Homo sapiens: one gene and its partners. The protein of the gene in region 3 interacts with the protein of the main gene of each other region in a pairwise test. Each region holds a gene or a part of one and is shown on either strand. Other genes may lie near its edges. The genes, in order: GPR101, LYVE1, THSD7B and KIR3DL1.

Evidence for each region.
Region 1: the proteins of THSD7B (region 3) and GPR101 interact in binary tests that used the Homo sapiens proteins (3 or more experiments, as listed by UniProt).
Region 2: the proteins of THSD7B (region 3) and LYVE1 interact in binary tests that used the Homo sapiens proteins (3 or more experiments, as listed by UniProt).
Region 4: the proteins of THSD7B (region 3) and KIR3DL1 interact in binary tests that used the Homo sapiens proteins (3 or more experiments, as listed by UniProt).

What each region holds. Positions count from the first base shown.
Region 1 is NC_000023.11:137,023,970-137,030,998, forward strand, and holds part of GPR101 (probable G-protein coupled receptor 101), read right to left. Parts: coding exon 6,179-7,029; 3' UTR 1-6,178. UniProt on the Homo sapiens protein: Orphan receptor.
Region 2 is NC_000011.10:10,558,638-10,565,666, forward strand, and holds part of LYVE1 (lymphatic vessel endothelial hyaluronic acid receptor 1 precursor), read right to left. Parts: intron 5,738-7,029; coding exon 5,566-5,737; intron 5,443-5,565; coding exon 5,303-5,442; intron 2,164-5,302; coding exon 1,858-2,163; intron 1,258-1,857; coding exon 1,179-1,257; intron 661-1,178; coding exon 474-660; 3' UTR 1-473. UniProt on the Homo sapiens protein: Ligand-specific transporter trafficking between intracellular organelles (TGN) and the plasma membrane. Plays a role in autocrine regulation of cell growth mediated by growth regulators containing cell surface retention sequence binding (CRS).
Region 3 is NC_000002.12:137,055,520-137,062,548, reverse strand, and holds part of THSD7B (thrombospondin type-1 domain-containing protein 7B precursor), read right to left. Parts: intron 6,130-7,029; coding exon 5,319-6,129; intron 1-5,318.
Region 4 is NC_000019.10:54,819,466-54,826,494, forward strand, and holds part of KIR3DL1 (killer cell immunoglobulin-like receptor 3DL1 isoform 1 precursor), read left to right. Parts: intron 1-247; coding exon 248-547; intron 548-2,099; coding exon 2,100-2,393; intron 2,394-5,562; coding exon 5,563-5,613; intron 5,614-7,029. UniProt on the Homo sapiens protein: Receptor on natural killer (NK) cells for HLA Bw4 allele. Inhibits the activity of NK cells thus preventing cell lysis.

The DNA of each region.
Region 1 (7,029 bases), on a different chromosome or scaffold from region 3:
AATATACCAAGGATAGAATAACAGCACCTATTTAAGAAACACAAACATCACTTAATAATACTTAGTTAAATCACAAACATCAATTTCTCCGCATTTCCCAAGCAGGAGTCCGTTATTCCTTTCCAGCAAAAGAAAAAAAAAGGCATTGTAACCATTTTAGAAAGGATCCAATTAAAGCCAACCAATATGTGAAACCTTGGCCTTGGGCAGAATCTCTGGGACTGCTGGCCCATGTAATAGTGTTGATTTATGAATTTGATTGGGGTGTGAGTGGGATTCTCTTCTTGTTGAGGGGAGGAAGATAAAGCCTACCTGTTTTGTGCACCTGAAGGTAAGTCGTGCCAATGGGAACTTGGCCTCAGGACTGTAGTTTGACAATCCTTTGAGAAGGCACTTTTCAATTACAAATTCTTACTGTTTTTAAAGAAAAATGAAACTTTTAAATTCAAACGTTAAAATATTAAAGAGAACTATTTATTGATTAAATACATTTTTCTGTTTTCAGTTTCAAAGCAGCTCACAAAATTTGGTATTAAAGGCAGTTTTAAAAACAATTTAATGAGGGTATATATAGTTTTTTAGTTGTAATATTTTGTTCTGAAAATATAACAAAATCATCTTATAGTTTTCTTTTCTTGTCTGACACAAATTCCATTGATACAGTACTGTAACTATCAAACACCGTAGCTGTGACCCCATAGAGGAGTCCCACTACCTCTCTATCTAGTTAGCCATCCATGCTGTCTCTATCTTGTCTCTCAGACAACCAACCAAAGGGGGAAAAACAGAGCAGCCTTTTTCTGGGTTTTGCTACTGCTTTAGGAGGGCATGGATGGTCACATTATGGATCTGCCAAGCGCGAAACCTGTCAGTTCACGGTCAGGTGTTGGTTGGGTCTTCAGGGTGCAGTATTCTTTTCGTCCTGCTAACTGGACTCTACTTGCCTATCCTGGAGTCCTTCCTTTTTAATGGAGAAGGATGGTCTTCTTTGAGTTTGCATTCTATATATTCAGTGAATAGAAAACAGGCACACCAGTGCCAAGTGTGTTGTGGAAAACTGTCAGCAAGGACTTCAGCCACGATGATTAGTTCACACTAATGACCAATTGTACCAGAATAAGTCCTCACCTGTCATATATCATATTAGGGATTTAAGGAATGAAAGGCAACACTTCCTGCAACCCCACCTTGGCACTATTTTACATATCCTGTAGTATATACTTCAAAAATAAATTTAAAAAACAAATGTACCATGTTCTACATCAGAAACTGACTAAGTTGTAGGTCACACATAGAATTTGGCATGCATTTTATTAACTAACTTTACAAGTACATACTACCTTTGAGGACAACACTATCTACAAACACAATCTAATATCTAGCACCGTATCTCCAAGAACACTTACATTTTATATACAGTTATAGTTTACATTTAGGAGAATTACTACAAAAAATACTACATCACTAAAGATGAAAATACCAAACTTTTAACATTAAAGTTGTAGCACAGATGAAGAGGGGGGAAAATCCACTCACGTTTGAAACATCAAACTAAAACCAATCTTGTTTTTCTCTACATTTTAGAACAAGACAGATAGAATAATTATTCCTCAGACATAGTAAACCTCCTGCTGAGTGTCTAAGTCACTGTGGTTTTCCCTTGGTGTGTGTACTCTGAGATATGGAGGCTTTGGGAGGCAATGATGGAAACACTTGACACCTATTAGCAACCTTCGTTTACCTTGAGGATTCTTATTCTATTTACCAAAGAGCAGTGAACTTGTCAGTGACCTGGCAATCTGTGGCCAGGTTCAGTGGATTTTAGCTTCACTGTTTCTTCCTCTAGCCAGTTTTGTTGCTTAGGGCAAAAGACTGCTGTAAGCAAGCTGGGCATTTGACGTAGAGGAAGAGATCATTGCTAAGTAATTGGAAAGAATTTATGACAAGGATTTCTCTTCTTTTTGGATTTTAGACTATCGCATTTGCTGTTTCCAGCTCATTGCTTCTGTCTCCTCATGCCTTAGCTTAGAGGGGCTTTGAGGGGCCGAGAGCACTAGTCCAGCCCATGGAAAGTAAGAGGAAGAGATAAGGAGGGAGAGGGTTAAAAGCCATTGAGTGGCCAGATTTTCTCTCCTTATCTTGGCCACTGGCTAACAGCTAACTGTTCCTGTAATCTTTTGTCTGGTCTAGAAGGAAACGGCATTTTGCTTAGAGAAACCTCTCCTGACAGCGTGAGGTCTTTCTTAAAGAGGAATACAACAGAAAAGACATTATGAGGGGAAAACACGTTATTTTTTTCCTCAAAATATTGGGCAGGGTGGTTATGAGAGAAAAATACAGTCCAGTAGTTTAAATTGTTGCTCATTGTTTTATCCCAACAACCCATGAGAGTTTTATCTTGAGAGTCCAAATTACCAGATGATGCGTATTTTTTTTCTTCCAAATGATGTGTTTCAGACACTTTTAAAAGCTTTTTTGGCAAAGTCTAAGTAAGCCTAGTTTAATCATGTAAATTATTCTTCAGGTAGTATGAAAAAATCTTCTTGAAGTAACTTTACCTAGCTTAATTGGCTAATTATATATAAAATAAGGCAATGTTAGGCATCTTATAATTCTGTAGGTGAAACATTTTTTAGTGTTCTATTTTTGCTGAAATAATTGGACAGTATCTACAGTATTGACTATTCCCCCAATGATGTGTAATATCGAGTGCTTTTTTGGTAAAAAATTAGGTGCCTACCTTCTACTAAATAATAACTGGCACTTTTCCTTACCTGTTGAATTTGAAGTAGGTATCCCGTCATCTCTAAATTGGATTGGAGTTGGGTAGGAGACAGAAAAATACCTTTCATTGCTCCTATGGCTCACTTCTCTCCTTCCCTGCTTCCATAGGCCCCCAGGTCCCTGTGAATCTGTCAGCTCTGGGTTGGGAAGGGATGGATGGGGAGTAGGTGAACACGCAGAGCTTCAAGCATGGACTATTCCTGAAGGGCCAGTGCAGCAGAGGGAGAGGGAGTGAGGCAGGTGAAGGCAGTGGGCTGATGGCAAGAGGTAGGCAGGGAGCTGGAAGTGCAGAGGCCTTCCAAGCAGCTGGTACTTGTGGTGTCTCAGAGAAGTGGGACCCTAGCATCACAGAAGTCACAGAAGCCCAGGGCTTGCTCCTTATTACTGCCTTCCCAAGCTTGTGGAAATTGGTGTGTTAGTCAAAGCACCTGCGACTTCTTGGCAAACTAGATGCTCTATTATTCGTAAATAAGGAAAATCATTAAATTTAAAATCACATCATTTCATAGTCTGGTTTGTCTGGCCCCTGTACTTTAATGGGATTTTTTTTTTTTTTTTTACTGCACATATGAAGTGGCCTTGGCAAAAGAATACATCCTTTAAAAACATTCAGGGAAAGCTATTGCACATGAGGATCTGTGAGGCTAATGATGACTTTTTTTGTGTGCTTTCAGATTTTCAAATGACAAAACAGTATGTGCAGTAAAACCTCATTAAGTTGATAGTGCTTTATTCAAAATAGCAAAAAATTTCGAGTACTTGCTATCTCCAAGCTAACCATAGGCCTTATTGTTCATTTAGAAGAAAATGTCATCAAAGCAGAATGCTCTTAATTAAAAGGTCCTCTTTTCCAGGCTCATAGTTTCAAAAGGTCTTCACTTTTGAGGAATCCAATTTACCAAAATAATGGACAATGACTAAAATAGGGAAAAGAGGAACTTCAAAAAGGAAAGGGAATCTCAGTGCCCTTGAGAATGTTGTGTGTGCTGTTAAATGGACTTACCATACTTGTACAGGTTCTGGTTCCATTTTGATTTGAGATTTTGGCAAACAATTTTCTCTGATACACTTTGAAGGGGGTGAGCTTTAAAAATAAAACAAGAAGTTCAGTTTTAACACAATGTTTGGAGACATTTATGTTTGAAATCCTGTTTCCTACCCAAGTAAGCATTTCTACTCAAAGGATAGGCTATAGCTACCTTGAACTCCTTTGACAATTTGAACAGACCTGAAGGCACTGCCCCTCCCCTGTAGGAGGATTGATCACATAGGCCATTTCTTCACCCAGATATCCTTTAAGGAAAGGTCAGTTCAAGAGTTTGGCAATAAATTGGTAGAACAAATTTATGACTGTTAATTCACTTTATGCATTTTGGTAGAAAAATAAATGATAGTGTAAGGGTAAACTTTAGCCCCCATGCCTTGTCTGAATAACTACAAGTTCCAAATTAATGGAGTTGGAATTAATAAGGTTATCATGGTATTTTTATTGGATGGGTCAGCTCTATATTATTTGGTTCTATTCCCTCTACTTTCCTAAATTCTGAACATGGCAATCCCAAATTCCCATGCAGAGTTATTCACAGTCCAAATACATTGCTGTTTACCCCTTGAGAAGTTCATGTTGAAATCTGTGAGGAGGAAGAGATAAAAAAAAATAAATGAGCTGGGCATTTATTTAAATGAAACTTGAGTTCTAATAAAGGCATGACAATCACACAAGAATGAGGCTAAACTCTGAAGATGGTCATCTTACATCATACAACTACCTGATTAACCATTTTCAACCAAACACTCCCTCCACCCATATTGACAGTGGATTTCTGCATGAACAGTTGGTTGACTCTGGAGTTGCTTTAACTTGTTCTGTAGGAGGATCAAAAACACTGGCTTGACTGTTTTTTTGGTTCCATGTTACTTGGTCACATACATACGGCCCATGCCCTCAGAAATGTATATGTATATCCCTGCCCAAAGTTATTTTGCGGTTTGGGATTTGAGGAATGTTCCTGTGAATTGACCCTAGGGATAATTTAGATATTGTTAAAGTTTTCCCAACGTGATTTATTTCAACAGCATTAATTAGGATATGTCTGATCTGAATGCTCTGATTTTAGGACTGTTTGGAATAGGTTACATGTTTTCTAGGTATTGTGAAATCATCCTCTTTGTCATTTCTGACTCTCTGATATTTCTCTTTCACATCTGCAGAGAGCTTAAAAGCTTTAAAGAGAGCCACAGGTGGAAAAGACACATGGGTGTGCCTGGAGGAAGAAAAATGTTCATTCTGCCTTCCTTGCTCCCCATGTGGAGATCACATTTATTGTCTATGATCTCATGGACACAAAATATATTTCTGATGAACAAATTATTCCTCAGTGACATCATGAATTTTGTAGGACTTAGGCCACTTCTAGTTGAATTTCTTTTTTTCTGTAAATACTGTTTGACTAAAAAAGGCTTATTTGACAAAAACAAACCAAAAGAAAACAGAAGTGTTGGCAGAGATCTGAAGAATTCCCACCAGCATCTCAATTCAGTCACATAAGGGAAGTTGTAAAATAGTGGCATGATTTCTGCCCCACTATTATTCAAACAGGAGACAGAAAATATTTGTGTCAATTGACAATTTACACTTAATGACCTCAGTTCCAGCCCATGCATAAACCCAAGATTTTATAGGAAAAAAAGTCAACTGTTTAGCTCTCCAGATGTGTGTTATTTCTCAATCTTTTCCCTTGGACTAGCTTCCCATTTCATACATGTCCTTCTACTTTTCTGGATCCCTTTAGGGGATCTAGAAACCTTCTTGAGATTCTAACTGTAGGAGGCCCTTTGTTTTAGTTTGTGTAACAGTCTTTGCACCCGACTGTGGGGCTGTTCAGTTCAGAATTTGGCTCATATGTTGATCAGTCCATTAGGTTCTGTTTCTTGGGCTCCATGAATGATTTGGTCCATTGCCTTTCTTTCAGTTGAACACAAGCTGTAGCTCTGGCCCATGAGCTCCCGACCCGAGGGCCGAAAAGTCCTTAAGTTCACAAGCATCATCTTCCCTTTCCTTCAGAGCTAAAGTTGGCATGTTGTAGCTCTGGAAAAGATAGAATACCAACTACAAGTCCAAAATGGATAGCCCTTGTTGCTTTAAGAAATGTAGAGCCTAATAATCTTTGGGGGGAAAATTTCAGTCAGAATCCTCAAGTCCATGCTTTTACGGAAAGACCCCAGTTCCTGCCTCTTCTATATATTTATCTACCTTGTGGTGAAGAGCATGTGTGTGCAACACCTTTGCCTGAAATGGTATGGTTTGGCATTAATGAATTGTGGGTCCATTGAAAAGAAATCTCCTCTTGTTTCTCGTGTTATGGACAGTTCAAGGTTTGCCTTAGAACTAACTTCAAGGAAAAGTAGCAGAATCGTAGGAAGGGACAATCTTGCCTTCAGTCCCACCCTCTGTTCCGGGCAGGTCTGGGTGGCTATCTTCTTTCGGGGGCTTTTCCTTGCAGAAGAACTTCTTCAGCATGTCCTGGATTTCCTTCTTAATGGTCTTGTGCATGTAGCCATAGACATAGGGGTGGATGCAGCACTGCAGGAAGAAAAGCCAGATGATTATGGTGATCACCCACTGGGGTACCTGGGTTTCGACATCCACCCACACGGCCAGGACTGCTAAAAAGCAGTAGGGCCCCAGGGATAGCACATAGGAGAAAATGATGATGAAGATCACTTTAGCAGCTTTGCACTGGTAGCACCTGGGCAGAGGAGGGTTGCTGTTGCTGTTACGACGACTGGGTGGGAGGCTCTCCGGGATGTTCACTGCCTCGACGTCATCCTCACTGAAATTGATGTCGTCTTCACCAAACTCCATGTCATCTTCACCCAAGTCAATGCTGCACTGGTTGACCTCTGTGCGACCCTTGTCTGCCTTCATGCTGTTCTCCTCAACTTTGGTGCTGCCTTCCTTACCCTCCATGCTGCCGTCGCTGGCCACCGTGCTGCTCTCTCTGACCTCCTCGCTGCCCCTGGCCTCTACACTACTCTCACTGGTCCCCGTGCTTCCTTCCTTGGCCTTCAGGCTGCCGTCCTTGGCTTCCATTCTGCCCTCCTTGGCCTTGACCTCACCTTCATGCTGGCGGCGAAACTCACTCTCATCCTGGAACTCCTCCTTCTTCTCTGCTCCCTCTTCATCCTCATTCTCCACACAGTCCTTGACTCGCACTTCCAAGCTGTGTCTCTTGACATTGTACA
Region 2 (7,029 bases), on a different chromosome or scaffold from region 3:
GAAGGACATGTCAGGTGGGATACGTGTTTCTCTTTCAGAGCTGAAGAAAGGGTCTGAGCTGCGGAATCAGTAGAGAAAGCCTTGGTCTCAGTGACTCCTTGGCTTTCAACCCACCTAGCCTCAGACAGCCAGGAGGCCTTTTTACCACTGGATACTGATGAGATGTTTTAGGTCCTTGCACTTTGCAAAACTCCTTTCTCCCAGTGGGATATTATTAGGACATAGCCAGGCTAGAAAGGCCGTGGGAAGCTTTGGAGGTAGGAGGATAGGATCCAGACAGGGTTACAATAAGGAGAAGGGCATTCTCTTTGGTGCACTCCATAGTCCAATGGCAGTCCTGAGCTGATTCCAGTTAGGAACCAAGGGTGGACTTTCTTCTTTGGTTCTTTGGCCCTTTTGATTTCCCCAGCTGGGGCAGGGTAAGGAGCATGAAAGAAACCAGCCTCAGGTGTGTCTCCTCATTTCTGTCTCATCTAAACTTCAGCTTCCAGGCATCGCACGGTAGTTTTGCTTGGACTCTTGGACTCTTCTGGGTTTTTATCAGTTTTCTTTGATTCCTCATTAGGGTTGCTATCATTGGCCTTCTCCTCCTTTACTACTTTGGTTTCGATCATTTCCTTCTGCTGATTCTTGTTTGTAAAAGGGAAGGCCTTCACATACCTTTAGGCAGAAACATGAAATTAAAGTGAGAGACTCTCACACATAACGATAGATAACACTTTTTGGCCATGGTACATATTGGCACAGTACACTGGATACCTTTATTTCAGAGTGATGCCAGCACATGCATGCTCTAATACATTAAGACATCACCACCTTAATGGATTCATTTAAATTGGACAATATGTTTGCAGGCCAGACTTTAGGCTGACCACATAACTCTTCCAACAAAAACAAAGAACCAAAAATCAAATAAAGCATATAAATTTTCCCCAGATGTCAATTTTTTTTAATTTCTTGATTTTCAAAGGACAGTCATTGACTGATGGCTGGACGACATGCATGTCCTGAAATAGAAAAGATTGGGCTGAAGGGAAAGAGATGAGATGAGGGAGAAATTTATATCAGAGGACTGCTATCTCCATTTTGATCAGCAAAATGCCAACAGTGACCCTGAAAAAGCACAGGATAGAAACATGACAAAGATTACAAGACTAGCAGTGCACCAACAACCCTACCTTTTGACATAGCAAAATCCAAGACCAGCTGCAGCACCAAAGAAGAGGAGAGCAAGCACTAGCAGAGCCGTGGGGACACCTGCAAGGAACAGAGACAAGGCCTGTTGGTCCTTCACTTAAACATTGTGTGTAATGCTCATTGCATGATCCAGGTGATTGAGACAGTAGACAGTACAGGAGAAAAACCTTCTCTGTAGCCCTTTATGATATTGGGCCCACACCAGCTTCTTTGCTTCATGCTTGTAGAATCATTGGCCTTGCTTCTCACACTCTCAATTCTATCAGTTGCAATATGACAGAGTTCATTTCTCCTCCATGGCCTTGAGACCTACTCTAGTCAACAAGCCTGCCTGAGAAAGAGATGACTAGAATAAAGTCATAGGCCTTTAGGGTATATATTTTAAAAAGAACTTATGCATAGGAACAGATAGTGATTTATTTTTAAAAGTCTTGAGTTTTCAACAGTGAAATTCTTTTATACTTACACTTTTTAGCTTAATCACTAAGGTTCTTTACAGCTCTCAGATTCTATGACTTCATGAAAGTTGAGTTTGTGTTAAGCTTTTATTAGTATTTGACAGGTCCTGAGCGCCTCATCTAAAGACAGGCAGGATTCTATGAATTATCTGTTATACATGAACATACATACACACGTAACATAGACACAGAAACCATTTACCTCCAAACCCAGCAGCTTCATTCTTGAATGCTGCTTTATTTTCAACAAATGGTTCAGTTTCTGTAGACATGGTGCTAGTTTCCATAAAAACTTCTGTGACACAAATCAATTTTTTTCTCCGTGGAATAGAAGTGGAAGCTGGAGCAGGAGGAGTAGTAGTAGGGGCAGGTATTGTAGAGTAAGGGGATGCCACCGAGTAGGTACTGTCACTGACAATAAATTCTGTTGTTTGTGTTGCAGTTTGAGTGTTGAATATGGGATCTTTGGTGGTGATAATTTCTGGAATGCACGAGTTAGTCCAAGTATCTGTTGGGATAGGGAAACATGGAATAAAAGTATTGCAACAGCCTCCTAACTGTTCTTCTTGCCTCTAGTCTTACTACCTCCAAACCCCTTATACCGCAGCTGGAATGGTCTTTAAAAAGCAAATCTAACCATATCACTTTCTTCCTTAGAAGCCTTCAGTGGCTATCTTTGTTGTATGGCCTACAAGGCCTTCTGTGATTTGGCCCCTGCTAACATGCCAGCCTCATCTGCTCTTTTTCTCTCATTGCCCCTGCCATACTGAAATTACTTGAAATTCCTTGATACACTTTATCTTACATCCAAGCCTTGCACCACGATGCTTTATTCACCTTTATGACTCTTTGCCTCTCTTTATTTAGCTTACTCTGACTCATCCCTCAGGTCTCAGATTGACCCTGTCTTTCTCAGGCAGACTTGTTGACTTGATTGGCATATGTTCTTGTACTTCCTTGTCACAGTTCTCATTACACTGTTCCCCACTGGACTGCAAGCTCTCTGGCAGCAGAAACCCCGTCTGTCTTGGTCAGCATGGTATGAGCACTGTGTGTGGTACATAGCACATGCTCAATAACTATTTGATGAATAGGGAAGGAAGGAAAAGGGAAAGGAAGGAAAGTATAGATTGGAAGACCAAATATACACATGTGGTGTCACTTCAGGACAAAGATATGCTAAGACCTGATATTTCTGGGCTCATTAAAAAAAGAAGTGAACAAAAAGGGACCAGGAGAGGGATAAGGGTTTGCTTTCCAATCTGTTGCATGTGCTAGAGAGGAAACACTTGTTAAAGCATCTTAATCTGAGTTGACCATGGCAGTAAGTGTTTAAATAGGTATCTCATTGAACAATATTACTAAACCCTTGTTTACACAGGAGGAAACTGAAGTTTAGAGAAATTGAATAACTCGCCCAAAGTCACAGAGCTAGTAAATGGCAGAGCCATGCAATATATTATAATATAAATTTGCATCTATTTTAAGTCCCTAATTATTTGTGGCAGTGGGTAGCATCAGCTGGGGTTGGGGGGTGGGCTAGCAGAGGGATAGCATTAGAAGAAATACCTAACGTAGGTGACGGGTTGATGGGTGCAGCAAACCACCATGGCACATGTATACCTATGTAACAAACCTGCACATTTTGCACGTGTATCCCAGAACTTAAAGTATAATAAAAATAAAATAATAAAATAAAATTATCTCTGGAAAAAAAGAAAAGAAATACATGGGATGGGAGTACAAGTTAAATGAAACCATGAGGAAATAGACAAATCCAAGTCCTCTTCCTCTGGCTCTTCTCTGTTTAGTCAGAGGGCTGGGTATCATCACATTGCCAGCTGGCAGGAAGGCAGTTAAAAAGCAAAGCCATTTGACAGGCATGGGCTGGCTATGAGGTATGCAGGCATATGTAGCTCACCAATTCCCCAGCCAGTGATGATAGACCAAAGAGGCAGAGAAGGGAAGGAAGATGGGAAATACACTGTTAGGAGAAGCCCTATGTTTCAGTCTTGATTCTGCCACTAACTGACCGTAGGACCTTGAACAAGCTAAGCCCGTGTTCTGAACTGTAGTTGTTTCATCCATGAAGTGAGGGAACTGGTCAAAGTTTCTCCATGGGCCTTTTCTGTGCCAAAGCCCTCTGGATCAGGGAACTACTTGGATCCTATATTGCCTTTCTGGGACAGTTTTTGCTAATATTGGCTGGTGCACATTTATCTCTCGGATCTTCGAGAATGATCTTGAAATCTATCCTGTGTATGACCTCTCAGCCACCTAACCTTCAGAAGGTCAGATAGATGAGTATGTGTGAAAAGTAATAATCAGACAGGGGTCCTTATGACAAACTGAGAGCAAGTGAGTATTTAGTAAAAGAAAAACTTTAGGAGAAGTACTTAGGTGAAGCACTTGGGCTAAGGCAGCCAAGGTCTTCAAGCAAGGTTAGTGGGTGACTTCATGACCACGAACAAATCAGTGCTGCCCTCCAGGTGTCAATCTTTTCCTTCATAAAGTGGAGACTGGGTCTGGTTCTTAAAATTATAAAGGAATGTGGAACAGTGGAAAGAGTGCGGTTTCAGAGTTAGACCTGAGTCTGAACCTTTACAGTAATGAGACGTTAGACAAATGTGTTTACATCCTTTGAACTCGGTTTCTTTTTTTTTTTTTTTTTTTTTTTTTGAGACGGAGTCTCACTCTGTCGCCCAGGCTGGAGTGCAATGGCATGATCTTGGCTCACTGCAAGCTCCGCCTCCTGGGTTCATGCCATTCTCCTGCCTCAGCCTCCCGAGTAGCTGGGACTACAGGTGCCTGCCACCACGCCTGGCTAATTTTTTGTATTTTTAGTAGAGACGGGGTTTCACCGTGTTAGGATGGTCTCAATCTCCTGACCTTGTGATCTGCCCGCCTCGGCCTCCCAAAGTGCTGGGATTACAGGCATGAGCCACTGTGCCCGGCCTGAACTCGGTTTCTTTATTTGCAAAGTGGGGATGATAAAGCATATCTCATAGGGATCTGTAGATTCCATATAGGTGGAAGCAACCAACCTTGGATTGAAAATATTTGGGAAAAAAAGAAAAATAACAATACAACAATAAAAAAGCAAATAATACAGTACAATGACTGTTTACATAGCATCTACATTGTATTAGGTATTATAAGTAGTTTAGAGATGATTTAAAGTGTACAGGAGGATGTGTGTAGGTTATATGCAAATATGACCCCATTTTATATCAGGGACTTGGGCATCTGTAGATTTTTGTATATGATGGGGTGCCGGAACCAATCTCCCACTGACACTGAGGGACGACTGTGCATCACTTTGTCCATAATGGATGCATTACATACATCTGTACCTTTGTTCCTTCCCTTCTGCCTGCTTATCTTATAGGATGCAGGGATGGTGGCAGTGGTAATTGAGCCTCCTGAATGTCTTCTCGTGTGTTGCCATTCAGTTATATCTCTCCTAACTTTTTCCTTTGAGGGGCATATTGCCACCCCTAGCCTGGCCAGAGAGACAGTGTCGGGAGAATTAGATGGCCGTGGCTGTGATTGCTTCTGCTGCTGCTCAGGGTTACTCTTCCCAGACAGGTCTCAGAGTGAGAGATACCCAGAGAATGCCACGTGGAAAGGTTGCAGATCAGACTCACCAGATGAGTTGTAACAATAGGCTGCAAACTGTCGGCTCACTGGAACCTTCCAAATCAGGACACCCACCCCATTTTTCCCACACTTGGGGTTTGGGCTAATCCTAGAGATGACCACGAATCCATCTCCAACCCAGCCATAGCTGTAAAAGAATACACACTAGTTGAACAGAAAAATGATTAGAAGGCTTCATCTCTATTGCTGAACAAGAACACAGAGCTAAAAAAGAACTCCAGCAGTGACAGTGAAACCAGCTTTTTCTCACCTGCAAGTTTCAAAGCTAGCTTTCAAGGCTGTTTCAACTTGGTCCTTGCCGGCCAAACTTAGTCCCAGCAGCCTACAGGCCTCCTTAGCTTCTGTGAAATTCAGCTGCTGGTTCGCCTTTTTGCTCACAAGGGTGATCCCCATAATTCTGCATGACACCTGGATGGAAAGCTCTGCAAAGGAATCACATAGGTCCTCAGTTTGCTGCTGTCCTTGTTTCCAGCCCTTAGACTCTCCTTCCCAGCAGAGTATATCGTCCTGATGCGCAGGGAGGTCTATCTGGCTGGGACTGGGGTTTAGAATAACAGGACACAGACCAGGCATTTTCCACAAGGACCATCTGCTGGGCTAGATGGATGCTTGTTCTTGTCCAAGCTGTAAATGTCGCCCAATCAAAATCTATCCCATCCCACTGCATTAAGATGCCTTGCTCACCATATAGGGGCTTTGGCTACCTGTTGTTGGGGTGCAGTCTAAGGGATGCAGTTACTGCAAACCTTTCTGGAGTCTGTAAAATGAAGCATCTGAGACTTTGAGAAAGATAGAATTCAGGGCTCTAGTTCATAGAATAGTTAGCAATACCCCAAACCAATGTGGTTTGGGGACACTACTATTTGTGAGATGGGCTGAAAATGTCACACTTGTTATAAAAGAATGTGAGTGCTCTCAGTTCCAGGTCTTTTGGCCACTGGGGGACAGGCTTACTCAGAAGTTCCTGGAGGAGCTGGCAGTAAACTTTGAATGGCAGAAAAACTAAATGAAGAAAGCAGAATTTTAGAGTCAGACTTGGGCTTAGATCTAGCATATGTCATTTGCTAGCTCTGTGACCTTAGCCTAGATACTTCATCTCTTTAATCTTCAGCTCTTTGAGCCTCCTTGTTTATAAATTCAAGGGAGTAACAGTGTCTACTGAATAGGGTAGTGAAAGTTAAGTGAGTAAATTCTAATACAAATGTTTAGCATAGTGCCTGCCACATGGTAGGTGCTTAATAAATCCACATAACATTATCATTATCGTTAAAGCATTTTGGTTTTGGTCTGCTAATGATTGATTACCCCACAGAAGCTGAGGCTGTTGAATAGGTAAGATATGAATAATATTTCTACTCAAAATCTAATGGATTTGGGAATTCTTTTGAACCCTTTTCTCTGGGTTCTGGGATGTACAGACCTGTATAAAATTGCCAAGTTGTATTGTATTCAAATACATTATTCCTACTGGGCTTCATCCACAAACATCCATAAAAGGGCATTTAAATCTCTCAAGTAATTGCTTGTACGCAGCTCTGTGTATTGGATGCTCAGTCAAATGCTTTGACCACTTCCTAGGTTGATATCTAATGGAAGTTTCTTTTTGAAAACATGGAAGGAGCATTTCTAAGTCCTCCATATGAACCTTGCTGTGGTGGCAGATTAGGAGCACACACTCAATTATGCCTGATTCTAAAACCCCAGTTCCTCTTTT
Region 3 (7,029 bases):
ATGCAAAAATATTTAGAACTACATGAAAATAATGCAAATTATCAGAATTTGTGGAACAAAGAGAAAGGGCTTGAGGAAATTGAATGCATCTAATAGTAAAGAAGAGAGATCTCAAATGAGTAACCTAAGTTTCCACCTTAGGAAACTAGAAAAAGAAGAGCAATTAAATCTAAAGTAAGCAGAAGAAAAGAAATAATAAAATCAGAGTCAAAATCAATGAAATTAGAAAAAAAATCAATAGAAAAAAATCAACAAAACCAAAAGCTGGTTTTTAAAAGCACTGATAAAATTAATGAACCTCTAGCCAGGTTAGGAAAAAAAAGAGAGGATACAAATTATTAATACTGGAAACTTAAGAAGGGTAATCATTAATAATCCCATAGCTATTAAAAGGAAAAAGGGATATTATGAACAACTCTATGTCCCTAAATTTGATAATCTAGATGAAATGAGCCAATTCCTTGAAAGACAAAATCTAGCAAAACACACAAAGAGAAATCGATGATACGAATAGTCCTAAATCTGTTAAAAGAAATTAAACCAGTATTTAGTAACTTTCCAAATCAGAAAGCATGAGGTCCAGAGGGTTCACTACCAAACATTCAAGGGAAAAATTATACCAATTCTCAACAATTTCTTTCAGAAAATGAAAGCACAGAAAATACTTTCCAATTCATTCGAAGAGGGCAGCATTACCCTAACATCACAACAAAGACATTACAAGTAAGGACAACAAAGATCAACATTTCTCATAAACATACATGAAATAAGTCTCAATAAAATACTAGCAAGTCAAATCCAACACTATGTAAAAGGAATTTACGTCGCAGCTAAGTGGGATTTATTCCACATACACAAGGCTGGTTCAACATTTGAAAATCAATTAATGTAATCCATAACATAAACAGGCTAATGAACAAAAATCATATAATCAGATCAATAGAGGCAGAAAAAATATTTAACAAAATCTAATGATTATTTATAAGGAAAATTCTCAGAAAACTAAGAATGAAGGGGAACTTCCTTGACTTGATCAAAACACCTACAAAAAAAAAAAACCTATAGCTAACAAAACACTTAATGGTGACAGCATAGATTTCTTTCCCAGTACAAAAAAAAAAGAATGTCCTTTCTCATCACTCCTGTATAACATTGTACTGGAAGTCTTGGCTAATGAAGACAAGAAAATAAAATAAAGAAAACATATTCAGATTGGAAAGAAAGCAATAATTTTTCCTTTTTTTTTTGCAGATGACATGCTGACATGCTTATTTATGTAAGTAATCTCAAAAAATCAACAACTACAGCAATGAAAATCTCTGGATAATAAGTGACTATAACAAAGTTGCAGGATGCAAGGTTAATATAAAAAGTTAACGGTTTTCTTATTATACCAGCAATGCACAATTGCAATATGAAATTAAAAACACAATACCATTTATGTTAGCACCAAAAAAGGTAAATTAATCTAAATCTGACACAATATGTACAAGATATATTTTTTTTAAAAAACCCTCCAAGACCCTGACAAAATAAACAAGAATTAAATAAATGGAGAGATATCCTATGTACCAGAATAGGATGACTCAGTATTATCAATATATTAGTTCTTCCCAAATTGATCTTCCATTACATGCAATCCCAATCAAAATCTTGGAAGTTATTTTGTGGATATCAAAAAGTAGTTCCAAAGTTTATATGAAAAAGCAAAAGATTCACTGCAGACAACACATAGGAAGAAAAAAAATAGGAAGACTGACACTTCTCTGCTTTACAATTTACTATAAAACTACATTACTCAAAACATTGTGTTACTAACAAATAATAGATAGTAAAATAGAATAAAAATTGAAGGCATAGAACAGACTCATATCAACATAGTCAATTGATCTTTGTCAAAAAAGCATAGGTAACTCAATAGAGAAAAGATATTCTTTACAATAAATGGTGCTGGAACAACTGAACATATAATAATCTTTTTTAAAAAGAATGCAGACATAGACCCTATACCTTTCACCAAAAAACCTCAAAATGAATGATAGACCTAAATATAATAAACAAAATTATGCAACTCGTAGAAGAAAATATAAGAGAAAAATTGAGTTGACTTTGGGTTTAGTGATATTTTTAAACAACACCAAAAAAAAAAGATCCTTGAAAAAATATTGAGAAGTTGGACTTCATTAAAATTAAAAATATTTTCTCTGTGAACAACACCATCAAGAAAATGAAAACACAAATCATAGACTGTCAAAAATATTTGCAAAACACATATCTGATAAAGGACTGGTATCCAAAATATACAAATAACTCTTAAAATTCAACAATAAGAAAACAACTCAATTAAAAAATAGACAAAACATCTGAATAGACACCTTATCAAATAATATATACAGATGGCAAGCAAGTGTATGAAAAGATGTTCAGCATCACATGTCATTAAGGAATCGCAATTTAAAACAATGAGATACCATTACACACCTATTCGAATGGCAAAACTCCAAAATACTGACAACAAATCCCAGTGATGTGACAAAATAGAACTTCCACTAATTGCTGGTGGCATTGCAAAGTGGCACAGCCATTCTGGAAGACAGCTGGGCAGTTTCTTACAAAACTAAACATACTCTTGCTATACCATACAGCAATTGCACTACTTGATATTAACCCAAATGACTTGAAAACCTATGTTCACAAAAAATTACACACATAAACTTTTATAGCAGCTTTATTCAAAATTGCCAAAACTTGATAGCAACCAAGATGTACTTCAGTAGGTGAATGAACAAACTATAGTACCACAAAATGGAATATTATTCAGTGATAAAAAGAAATAAGCTACCAAGTCACAAACAGACATGGAACAAACTTAAATGCGTATTGCAAAGTGAAATAAGTCAACCAGAAAAAGCTACATATATAATTCTAACTATATAACATTTTTTAAAAAGGCAAAACTTTGGGGACAGTCAGTAAAATGGTCAGTAGTTGCCAGGGGTTCTCAGGGAGAGAGGGAAGGATGAGTAAATAGAGTAGAAGGGATACTTAGGGGAGTAAAACTACTCTGTATGATACCGTAATTGTGGATCCATGTCATTATTCATTTGTCAAACCAATAGAATGTACAATACAAAGGATGAATCCTAATGTAAACTATAGTCTTTATTAACAGTAATATATCAATATTAGCTCATCAATTGTAACCAATGTACCTGCTGCACACTGAATTGTGTTCCTCCAAAATTCAAATGTTGAAACTCTAACCTCCATTTTGAATATGGGAAATTTCTAATGTAATCAGGTCATGAGAGTGGAGCCCTTGTGATAGGATTGGTGACCTTATAAGAAGAGACATAGAGTGCTCTCTTTTTTTCTCTCTCTCCCCCACCATGTGAGGACACAGCAAGAAGATGGCCATCTTTAAGACAAGAAGACAACCTTCATCACGAACTAAATCAAGACACACCTTGAATTTGGACTTTCCAGCCTCCAGAACTGTGGAAATAAATTTCTCATTTAAATTCCCAAACTATGGTATTTATTTTTATAACAGTTAGTCTTCGGCAATTCAAGCTGCTATAACAAAGTACCAGAAGCTGGATGGCTTAAAAAACAACAGAAATCTATTTCTCACAGTTCTAGAGGCTGGAAGTCTGAGACCAGGGTACCAGCATAGTCACATTCTGGTGGGTTCTCTCTTCTGGCTTGCAGACTGCTGACTTCACATTGTATCCTCAAATGGCAGAAAAAGAGTGAGAGGAAGCTCTCATGGCGCACTAATCCCATCTATGAGAACTGCATCATCACGACATAATTACCTCCCAAAGGCCCCATGCCTCCTAAAAACATTACACTCATGGTTAGAATTTCGATACATAAATTTGGGGAGGGGAACACAATTTGAACTGTGTTATGCACTCAATGTTTGTGTATGTAACTATGAAATGTTTGTTTATGAAACTATCACATGAATGCAAGATGTTAATAATAGGAAAAAACTATATGTTGGAGACAGGGAGTATACAGGAACTCAGTACTTTCACTCATTTTTTCTGAAAATTTAAAAATTGATCTGAAAAATCAAGTCTATTAAAAAAAGAAAAACACTGCAAAAATGCACAAACAAAATGAAAAGATTCTATGTAATGCTCACTTCAGCAATACAGTACGGAATATTAAGAAAACAATGTATTTACACAACCCCACACACATTCAAACAAATTGCATGAATCTTTTGCTTAATCTGGACTTCAAAGAAGTAGGCAATAAAAAGCTGCAAATCACTCTTCAGTGGACTTGCTAATTTCATATGGCACAAATCAGAATGAAGTATCAAGGATAAAATATACTCATTTGTGAAGTCAAATGGAAAAAAAAACAATCATCACATTACTTTGTTCATAAACAACAGTGGTAGTCTTCTGGGCATCTCCTGGTCAGCTGTGGATCCCAAGAAGGCAGCAACTGATGAGAATGATTAATTCTAAAGACAAGCATTATGTTGTTTGGTAATTTAAGTACTATTGAAAGGCATCTTAATTTGGAAGAAACTTAGTAATACACAAATGCTTCATTTAAGACCCTCTGAGGTAAAATTAAACAAATACTACTTTCAATATATTTCTGTGAGTTTATGTCATGATGTTTTAGACTACAATTTAAAATAAAACAAGCATAAATTTGAAACCTAAGCTGTTGCTTTAATAGTTTATTTCTTCTCCAGTACGTCATTCTAATTACTGCTTGCGCAAGTTAATACCTGTATCAAAATAACGCCAAAGAAAGCACTCTTGGAACAACTTTTCGGTATTATTGCTAGTATAAAAAATGTACAACACAGATGTCAAAGAATGTTGATAACAGTGGAAACAAAAGTAAACAAATAAAAACAAAAATAAAATTTTAAAGGACAAATGTTCTGAAAAACAAAAATATTTACATAATTCATATCCCACATTTGAAATTGAACTTGAATTTTTATCATTATGAGAAGCCCCTTAGTCTTCTATCACTGTTGTAATGGCAGATCTATTTTTATACTAGTTACTGTCTTGATAAAATGTGGAAATATATGACTTATCCTATATATATAATTGCATTACTAATCACACAAGAATGCTAGAACACTGCTTGGTCTAAACTATGCAATTTTGAAAACCTCCCAGTGAAATTAAAAATTTCTTACATGAAACTTCTAAAAACCTAAATTATAAACCTCGTTGCCATTTTCGCTTTGTAGAAAATCATAAAGAAGCTTTATAAAGTTGCACTATAAAATATTTTAGGTGAATCAAATTCAAGCATCAAAGGTCTCCTACCTTAACATAGCATTTTGTCCATCACTTCTTGTACACGAAACCTGCCGGGTTTGATAACCTATCTCTATTGCCCAAGACTTCGAATGATGATGTGCTTTGTAACTTTGATGTTTAAAGGTGACTCGCTCATTTGAATCAGAGTTAAAATCCAGAACAGTTCTTCCGCTTGGATTAATTTCTTTAAGATGAGGCAGTCTGCATTTACTCCATGGTCCAACCTTAAGGCTAAATGTATATTCCTCTTCCCCAAGAGGACAGGAAATGGGAGCATCACAGGCTCTTGACTCAGTCAGATTTGGACATTGCAAACCACCAAAGAGAGGGGGAGCTATGACCGCGCGAGTTCTATGCTGCAATTTCTTCCCACATCCCTTGCTACAGTTGGACCATGGTAAGAACTCAGATACTACACAATCCCGGGGACAAGGAATGAGGCAAGCCTGTTCTGTAGGAGGCTGAAGGGCAAAGTGTTCGCATATTTCATTTGCAACCACAGTTCGGTTCAGCTTCTGAATGCAGCGCACCATCCGGTGCTGCAGTCCATGCTGAGCCGTCACACACTCTGCAGTCCGAGGCTTGACTTCACCGCGAGCGTAAGGAACAAGCACACAGTGGTGCCAGTCAGAAACCTCCCACTGAAAGAGGTCACTGTGCCAGTCACAAACTCGGAAACAACTTCTTTCCTTTGGAGGCCTGTTGCTCTCACCACAGTTAGACAGGTGACTTGTCCACCCGTCAACATGAAAACACCACACTGCCCGACTCTGGACTCCTCCGGGACCACAGTCTCCTGTACACCTTCCCCACGGACCTACAGGCAGAAAAACAAGGATGTTAATTACTCAGAGATTACATTCAGCAATTCACAGGTAAGTAGAAGTCAATTAACACACTTTCCAACACAAGCAGTATGAAATTAGGAATTTTGGTGGAACAGAGACAACATAATTTAGTGGTTCAGAATGTGGACACTCTTGTTGAAATAAGCATTCCATCAGTAATGTAAACTTGGATGAATTATTTCAACTTTCTAAGCCTTAGAAAGTTCCTCACCTATATAAGGTAGAAGATAATAAAAGCACCGACTTGTAGAATTGCTCTGAAGATAAATGATACAATGTGTCAAGTAGACAATACAAATTTAATAAATGATTGGTACCATTATAACTACTACGTTCCAAAGCCTATACATCTAACTCAATATTAATACTTTCCACTGAGGTGGTGTTTCATTCAAAAGAAAAGCCCTAAAGCCAGGATTTTAATAAAGTAGAATTTTTCATATTTCCAGTCTTTCAGCTCAAACTCTAAGAAGCTCAGAAGAGAGATATGTTTAACACCCTAAGTTGCCAAAGTATCCTATTTTCATTTTCAAAATAATTGTCCTCAGTTTTGGTTAGTACTTGCAGAGAGAATTGCATGAAAATAACAATGGGGTGCAGGGGAAAGGTAAGGTAATAAGAGAAGCAGCAGCACTGAATTGTCTGTGGAAATTCTGCCCCTAGAATCCTTGAAGTGTACTCATTTTGATTTCTGATGGGTACTGATCCAGGTACAGTTTCCAACATTAGCTTGTAATATGCCAGATCTTTTAATTAACTAATTCATTTGTGTAGGTAAGAGTCCAAGAAATGGACAGATGAGGGAGCTGCCCATTGACGTTTATCATATTTTTTGCATCTCATCTACAGACATACCAGCAGGCCTTATC
Region 4 (7,029 bases), on a different chromosome or scaffold from region 3:
GCCCAAGAGATGAGGCTGTCTTCACAGTGGCAAGGGAGTCAGGGGCTACTGGAGACAGAGGGACAGAGAAGAGGGAGGAAGACAGATGGAGGCACCTGCACCAGGGGATATGGGCACAGAAAAGACACGGAGATGCAGAGAGGGAGGAGAGAGACAGACACGGGGAGGGGAACCCTCACTCATTCCAGGTGCCATGGATGGGATGATAAAGAGAGATGCCTTCTAAACTCACAACTTCTCTTTCTAGGAAACCACAGAAAACCTTCCCTCCTGGCCCACCCAGGTCCCCTGGTGAAATCAGGAGAGAGAGTCATCCTGCAATGTTGGTCAGATATCATGTTTGAGCACTTCTTTCTGCACAAAGAGGGGATCTCTAAGGACCCCTCACGCCTCGTTGGACAGATCCATGATGGGGTCTCCAAGGCCAATTTCTCCATCGGTCCCATGATGCTTGCCCTTGCAGGGACCTACAGATGCTACGGTTCTGTTACTCACACCCCCTATCAGTTGTCAGCTCCCAGTGATCCCCTGGACATCGTGGTCACAGGTGAGAGTGTCTAGACATTGTTCTCATTGTCACTGGGACACAGAGTGAATGATCCAGGACTTGGAACCCCCAGGTGGTCATGAGGAAGATAAGTGTGGGATTCTTATGGAAAGAGAGTGACTTGGTGAGGTCTGTACCAACAGAGACAGAGAAACAGGAGACATAAGTACAGAACAGGTGTCATAACAGAGGACAGACACAGGGGCCATACAGGGAGGTAGAAAAGAGAGAAAGAGGTAAAGGAGACACTCAGACAGACAGACATGTCCCAGAGAGAGGTGTCCTTCCATGCTGACTTTGCTCAGAGACCTGGCACAGGTTAGAAGTTTCATTTCTGTTTTACCTCCACAAAGTGTTCCTACCAGAAGAACCCAAGGACACCCATATTTCTGACCTGAGTTGGGCCCTGTGGCCTCAGGCCTTGTGCCACCTACAGATGCCGTGTTTATTCTGACACCTCTGCCTTCCATGCAATGGAGAGTAATCATCCCAGGATATCATGGCCCCTGAACACCAACCCCTGTATGCTGTGTGAACTTGGGGTCCCCAGACTGGATTCTGAGGCTCATATTCCAAATAATCCCACATATGATAGGATCGCTGAGAGACACAGAGAAAAATCAGGGACACCAAAAAGCAAAGACATAAACACACACAAAATGAGCCAGAAGAAGGAGATTAAGAGATTCACAGACACATAAAAAGAAAGAAAAGAGGGCAGAATGGAGAGAATGATGGAAAGGAGGAGAGAAAAGCCCCAAAATCAGAACCCTGAGGGAGGGACACAAAGACAGAGAAAGATAAATATGTGGGGATGGATTGCAGAGATTCCAAATAGAACTAGAGAGACTGAGAGGCAGAGAAAGACAAGGAGACGGAGAGAGAGAGATGATAGATGGATAGATAGACGTAGATAGATGATAAATAGGTAGATGATAGATAATGGATTGGTTATAGATACATAGATGATGACTGATAGATGATACATAGAGATGACGATGATGATGATAGACACATAGATATATACATAGATGATACATAAATAGAGACAGAGAGGCAGACAGAGAGGTAATAGAGAGAGAGATAGATGATACATATATAGATAATAGATGATTGATGGATAGATAGACAGACAGACAATTGATAGAGAGATAGATAAGTGATACATAAATATAGATGATAGATAATTTGTAGATAGACACAAAATAGATAAATAGATAGAAATGTGCAGAAAGTTATGAACAAGACAGAAAGTGAGAGACTCAAAATTAAAGAAAAAGGAAGATCAAGTCAACCAATCCAAGGAGGGTCAGAGAGAATAAAACAATCCAAAAAGGGAAAACATACCTCAGGGTGGGGAAGTGAGGTCATAGACCTAGAGAGACAGAAAAGGTAGAAGGAGGAAACAGATATGAAGAGAGATGGGGTGGAGGGTGAGAGAGAGAGAGAGAGCATTAGGTCATAGAGCAGGGGAGTGAGTTCTCAGCTCAGGTATGAGGGGAGCTATGACAAGGAAGAACCTCCCTGAGGAAACTGCCTCTTCTCCTTCCAGGTCCATATGAGAAACCTTCTCTCTCAGCCCAGCCGGGCCCCAAGGTTCAGGCAGGAGAGAGCGTGACCTTGTCCTGTAGCTCCCGGAGCTCCTATGACATGTACCATCTATCCAGGGAGGGGGGAGCCCATGAACGTAGGCTCCCTGCAGTGCGCAAGGTCAACAGAACATTCCAGGCAGATTTCCCTCTGGGCCCTGCCACCCACGGAGGGACCTACAGATGCTTCGGCTCTTTCCGTCACTCTCCCTACGAGTGGTCAGACCCGAGTGACCCACTGCTTGTTTCTGTCACAGGTGAGAAAAGCCCATATCTCTCTCATGTCCTATGATCCTAAATCCTTAGCTAAGGAGCTTCCTGCTGATGATGGAGAAAAGCATGGACAGATGCAGAGAGAAGACACAGCAGGTGTGAGGGCGGAGTCAGGGCGCAGGATGGCAGACAGGGCACCTCCAAACCCTCCTTCATGGCCTGCATGGAGGCCTCCGATCAGGGCTCCAGGCACCCAGGCAGATGGAGAAAGCGGTCAGGACAGACCCAGAGAAGGGGAGACTGGGCTTAGTTTGGGGAGATCAGAGGTTCCCTCAGCCCCTCAATCTTATCCATTTCCCAGAAGCCCATCATGGCCTCTCACCCACACAGAGAGATATCATCACCAGCAACCCCTACACCCTTTTCTTTTCATTTTCAAAAATATTTATTGAGGTTAAATGTAACTATATAATTTACCACCTTTACCATTTTTAAAAGTAAAATCTAGTGGTCATAAATACCTTTATATGCTGGGTGTGGTGGTTCACGGTTGTAATCTCGGCGCTTTGAGAGGCCAAGGAAGGTGGATCATTTAAGATCAGGAACTCGAGATCACCCTGGCCAACATGTGGGAAATTCATCTTTACTAAACAGACAAGAAAAATTAGCCGAGCATGCTGGCATGCACCTGTAGTCCTAGCTACTTGGGAGGCTGAGGCAGGAGAAGCACTTAAACCCAGGAGGCAGAGGTTGCACTGAGCCGAGATCATGCCACTGCACTGCAGCCTGGGAGACAGAGAGAGACTCTGTTTCTAAATAAATAAATACATCTATATTCTTTTTTTTGTTACCCTCCACCCTTCCCTTCCTGGCCTCTGGTGTCCACCATTGTATTCTCCACCTTCATGAGATCCACCTTTTATCTCCTGCATGTGGGTGAGAAATGGGAATCTTTGTAATGACCTCCAGTTCCATCCATGTGGCTGCAAATGACAGGATGTTATTGTTTCTATGGATGAGTAGTCTCCACTGTGTGTGTGTACCACAGTTCTCTATCCATTCACCCACTGATGGGCAGGTAGGTTGACTCCACATCTTGGCTACTGTGAACAGTGCTGGAACAGTCATATGAGTGCAGATATCACTTCGATACACTGATGTCCTTTCCTTTGGATATAAACCCAGTAGTGAAATTGCTGGACACTATGAAAGTTCTCTTTTTTTTTTTTTCTTTTTTGAGAAAGAGTTTCCCTCCTTAGTCCAAGCTGGAGTCTAAGTGGTGAGATCTTGGCTCATTGCAACCTGTGCCTCCTAGGTTCAAATGATTGTCCTGACTCAGCCTCCCTAGTAGCTGTGATTACAGGTGCACGCCACCATGCCTGGCTAATTTTTGTATTTTTTTAGCACAGACGGGATATCCCAATTTTGGGCAGGCTGCTCTCAAACTCCTGACCTCAAGTGAGGTGCCTGCCTCGGTTTCCCAAAGTGCTGAAGTTACAGGCATAAGCCACTATGCCCAGCCTCCTTTTAGTTTTTTAAAGAATTTCCATACTTTTCTCCATAATAGTTGTACTAATTTACATTCCTACCAACAGGGTACCAGGGTTCTCCTTTCTCTACCATCTTGCCAGCATTTGTTTTGCCTGTCTTGCAGTAAAAGCCATTTTACTTTACTTTATTTTATTTATTTATTTATGTTGAGATGGAGTTTCACTCATAGTCTCCCAGGCTGGAGTGCAAGGGTGTGATCTCAGCTCACTGCAACCTCCGCCTCCCGCGTTCAACTGATTCTCCTGCCTCAGCCTCCAAAGTAGCTGGGATTACAGGCATGTGCCACCACGCCTAGCTAATTTTTGTATGTTTAGTAGAGAGGGAGTTTCTCCATGATGGTCAGGCTGGTCTCCCGACCTCAGGTGATCCGCCCACCTCCGCCTCCTGAAGTGCCGGAATTACAGGCGTGAGCCACCGGCCTAAAAGGCATTTTAATGGGATGAGATGAAAACTCATCGCGATTGTAATTTACATTTCTCTGATGATGAGTGATGCCGAGTACTTTTTCATATACGTGATCGCCATTTCTATGTTTTGTTTGTGGAGAAATGTCTCCTCATGTCTTTTGCTCGTTTTTTAATTAAATTGTTTTATTGAGTTGTTTGAGCTTCTTATATTTCCAGTTATTAATCCCGTCTCAGATGAATAGTTTGCAAATATTTGCTCCTATTTTGTCGGTTGTCTCTTCACTTTCTTGGTTTATCTTTTGTGGTGCAGAAGTTGCTTGGTTTGATGTAATCCTAATGGTCTATTTTTTGCTTTGATTACTTGTGTTTTGAAGGTTTTAAACAAAATGTCTTTCGTCAGACAAATGTCTTCCCCATTATTTTCTTCTACATGTTTCATAGGTTCAGGCCTTAGACTCATGTTTTTAATCCATTTTCATTTGATTTTTGTGTATGGTGACAGGTATAGATGCAGTTTTATTCCTCTGCATGTAGATATCCAGTTTTCCCCACACCATTTATTGAAAAGACTGTCCTTTCCTGATTGTAAGTTCTCGGCACCTTTGTCAAAGTCCATTAAATGGGCTGGGTATGGTGGCTCACACCTGCAATTCCAGCACTTTGGGAGGCCGAGGCGGGTGGATCACCTGAAGCCAGGAGTTCAAGACCAGGCTGGCCAACAGAGTGAAACCTCGTCTCTACTAAAAATACAAAAATTAGCTGAGCATGGTGACCAGTGCCTGTAATACCACTACTCGGGTGTTTGAGGCAAGAGAATTGCTTGAATCCAGGAAGTGGAGGTTGCATTGAGCTGAGATTGCACCTCTGCACTCCAGCCTGCATGACAGAGCAAGATTCTATCACACACACACACAAAAAAAGCCATTGGATGTAAATGCATGGATTATATCTGTGTTCTCCATTCTGTTTCATTTTTTATGTGCCTTTCTTTATGCCAATGTCATGCTGTTTTGCTTACTACAGCTCTGTAACATATTTCTAAGTCAGGTAGTGTGATGCTCCTGTTTTCTCTTTATACCTTCAAGTCTCAAGACAGTGGGCATCGCACACAAAAATTATGGAGAAGAGGATCCCAAGACTCCCAGGGTCCAACATTAGATAACAGAGTGTTGGCCATGAACCAACCTCAAAGATTTCCATTGAGTAGAGGACAAGCACCCTCATTTCCTCACATCTCTCCTGTCCCATGTTCTAGGAAACCCTTCAAGTAGTTGGCCTTCACCCACAGAACCAAGCTCCAAATCTGGTGAGTAAAGGACCCCTCTTATCTCTGCTTTTGGAAACCTGGGGAGGTGGAAGCCTTGGATGCAAGTGTTGGCTCAAACCTCCCAGCTCTGTGAATGAGGGCCTGTCTTCCACCATCTCTGAACTCCAGACACTCCAACAGTGAAAGGGATCTAGGGCCACCAAAGGGCTCAGCGAAGTCTCTTAACCTTTAATGTCCTGCAGGTGAGACCTCCTACAAGCTAGAAGAATGATTGCCAATCTGACATCCTTCTCAGGAAACATGCAGTGTTTTTTCTTCCTGCATTCCTAACTGGAGGATAAATTCCTGGGGACTTGAGAGAGGGAAGGGAAGGGAACATCTGATGAGGGCGAGGTGTTTTAGAGAAGTTCCACTTGCCAAGGAATGAATTACTGTTGGTCATGAAGCAACCCTGGCTGACTCAGCAGAGCAAGAGCCTTGCCGTAACAGAGAACAGAGCTCATGCACGCACACTTCGACTCACTGACTCATTCAGCCACGGCCCCATGCTCAGGCTGTGCAGTTGGAATCCTTTCCTATTGTTGCCATAACAAATTTCCACAAGATTCGTGGGTGAAAACAAAACGGTTTTTTAATTATCTTACAGTGCTGTAGCTCAAAGTAGGAAGTGCATCTTACTGGGCTAAAATCAAGGTGACAGCAAGGCTGCCTTCCCTCTGAGGATTCCAGGCAAGAATCTGCTTCTCACTTGTCCCAGCTTCTAAAGGCTCCCAGTTCCTTGGCTCCTGGTCCCCTTCCTCCTTCCTCAAAGCCCACAAAGACTGGTCACATCTCACATGGCATCACTCAGACCCTTCTTCCTTACCACACCTCTTTCTCTGAATGCTGCTCTCCCTTCTTCCTTATCTTTTGAAAACTTGGGGATTCTATTGGGTTCACCAAGATGAAAATCCATCATAATCTCCCGGAAATCATTCAGGATACCCTTGTTTTAAGTTCAGCTGACTAGCAACCGTAATTCCATCTGCAATCTTCATTCCTTCTTTCCATGTAAAATAAGATATTCACAAGCTATGGAGGCCAGGACAGGGACATTTTGGGGTGGGACAGCATTCTCCTGCCTTCCACGAACGGTGAACAAGATGCATTTGGCCTCTGCTCTTGGGACACTGATATTGCAGATGGTTAAATGGGAGGACAGAAAATGAGTGCACAAGTGGACCAATAAATGAATGATCCATTGGGAAGCATCTGTGCATGAAATCTATTTGTTTGTTCGTTCATTTATTTATTGAGACAGAGTCTCCCTCTGTCTTCCAGGCTACAGTGCAGTGTCACGATCTTGGCTCACTGCAACCTGCGTCTCCTGGATCCAAGTGATTCTCCTGCCTCACCCTCTCGAGTAGCTGGGATTACAGGCAACTGCCACCATGCCCGGCTAATTCTTTTTGTATA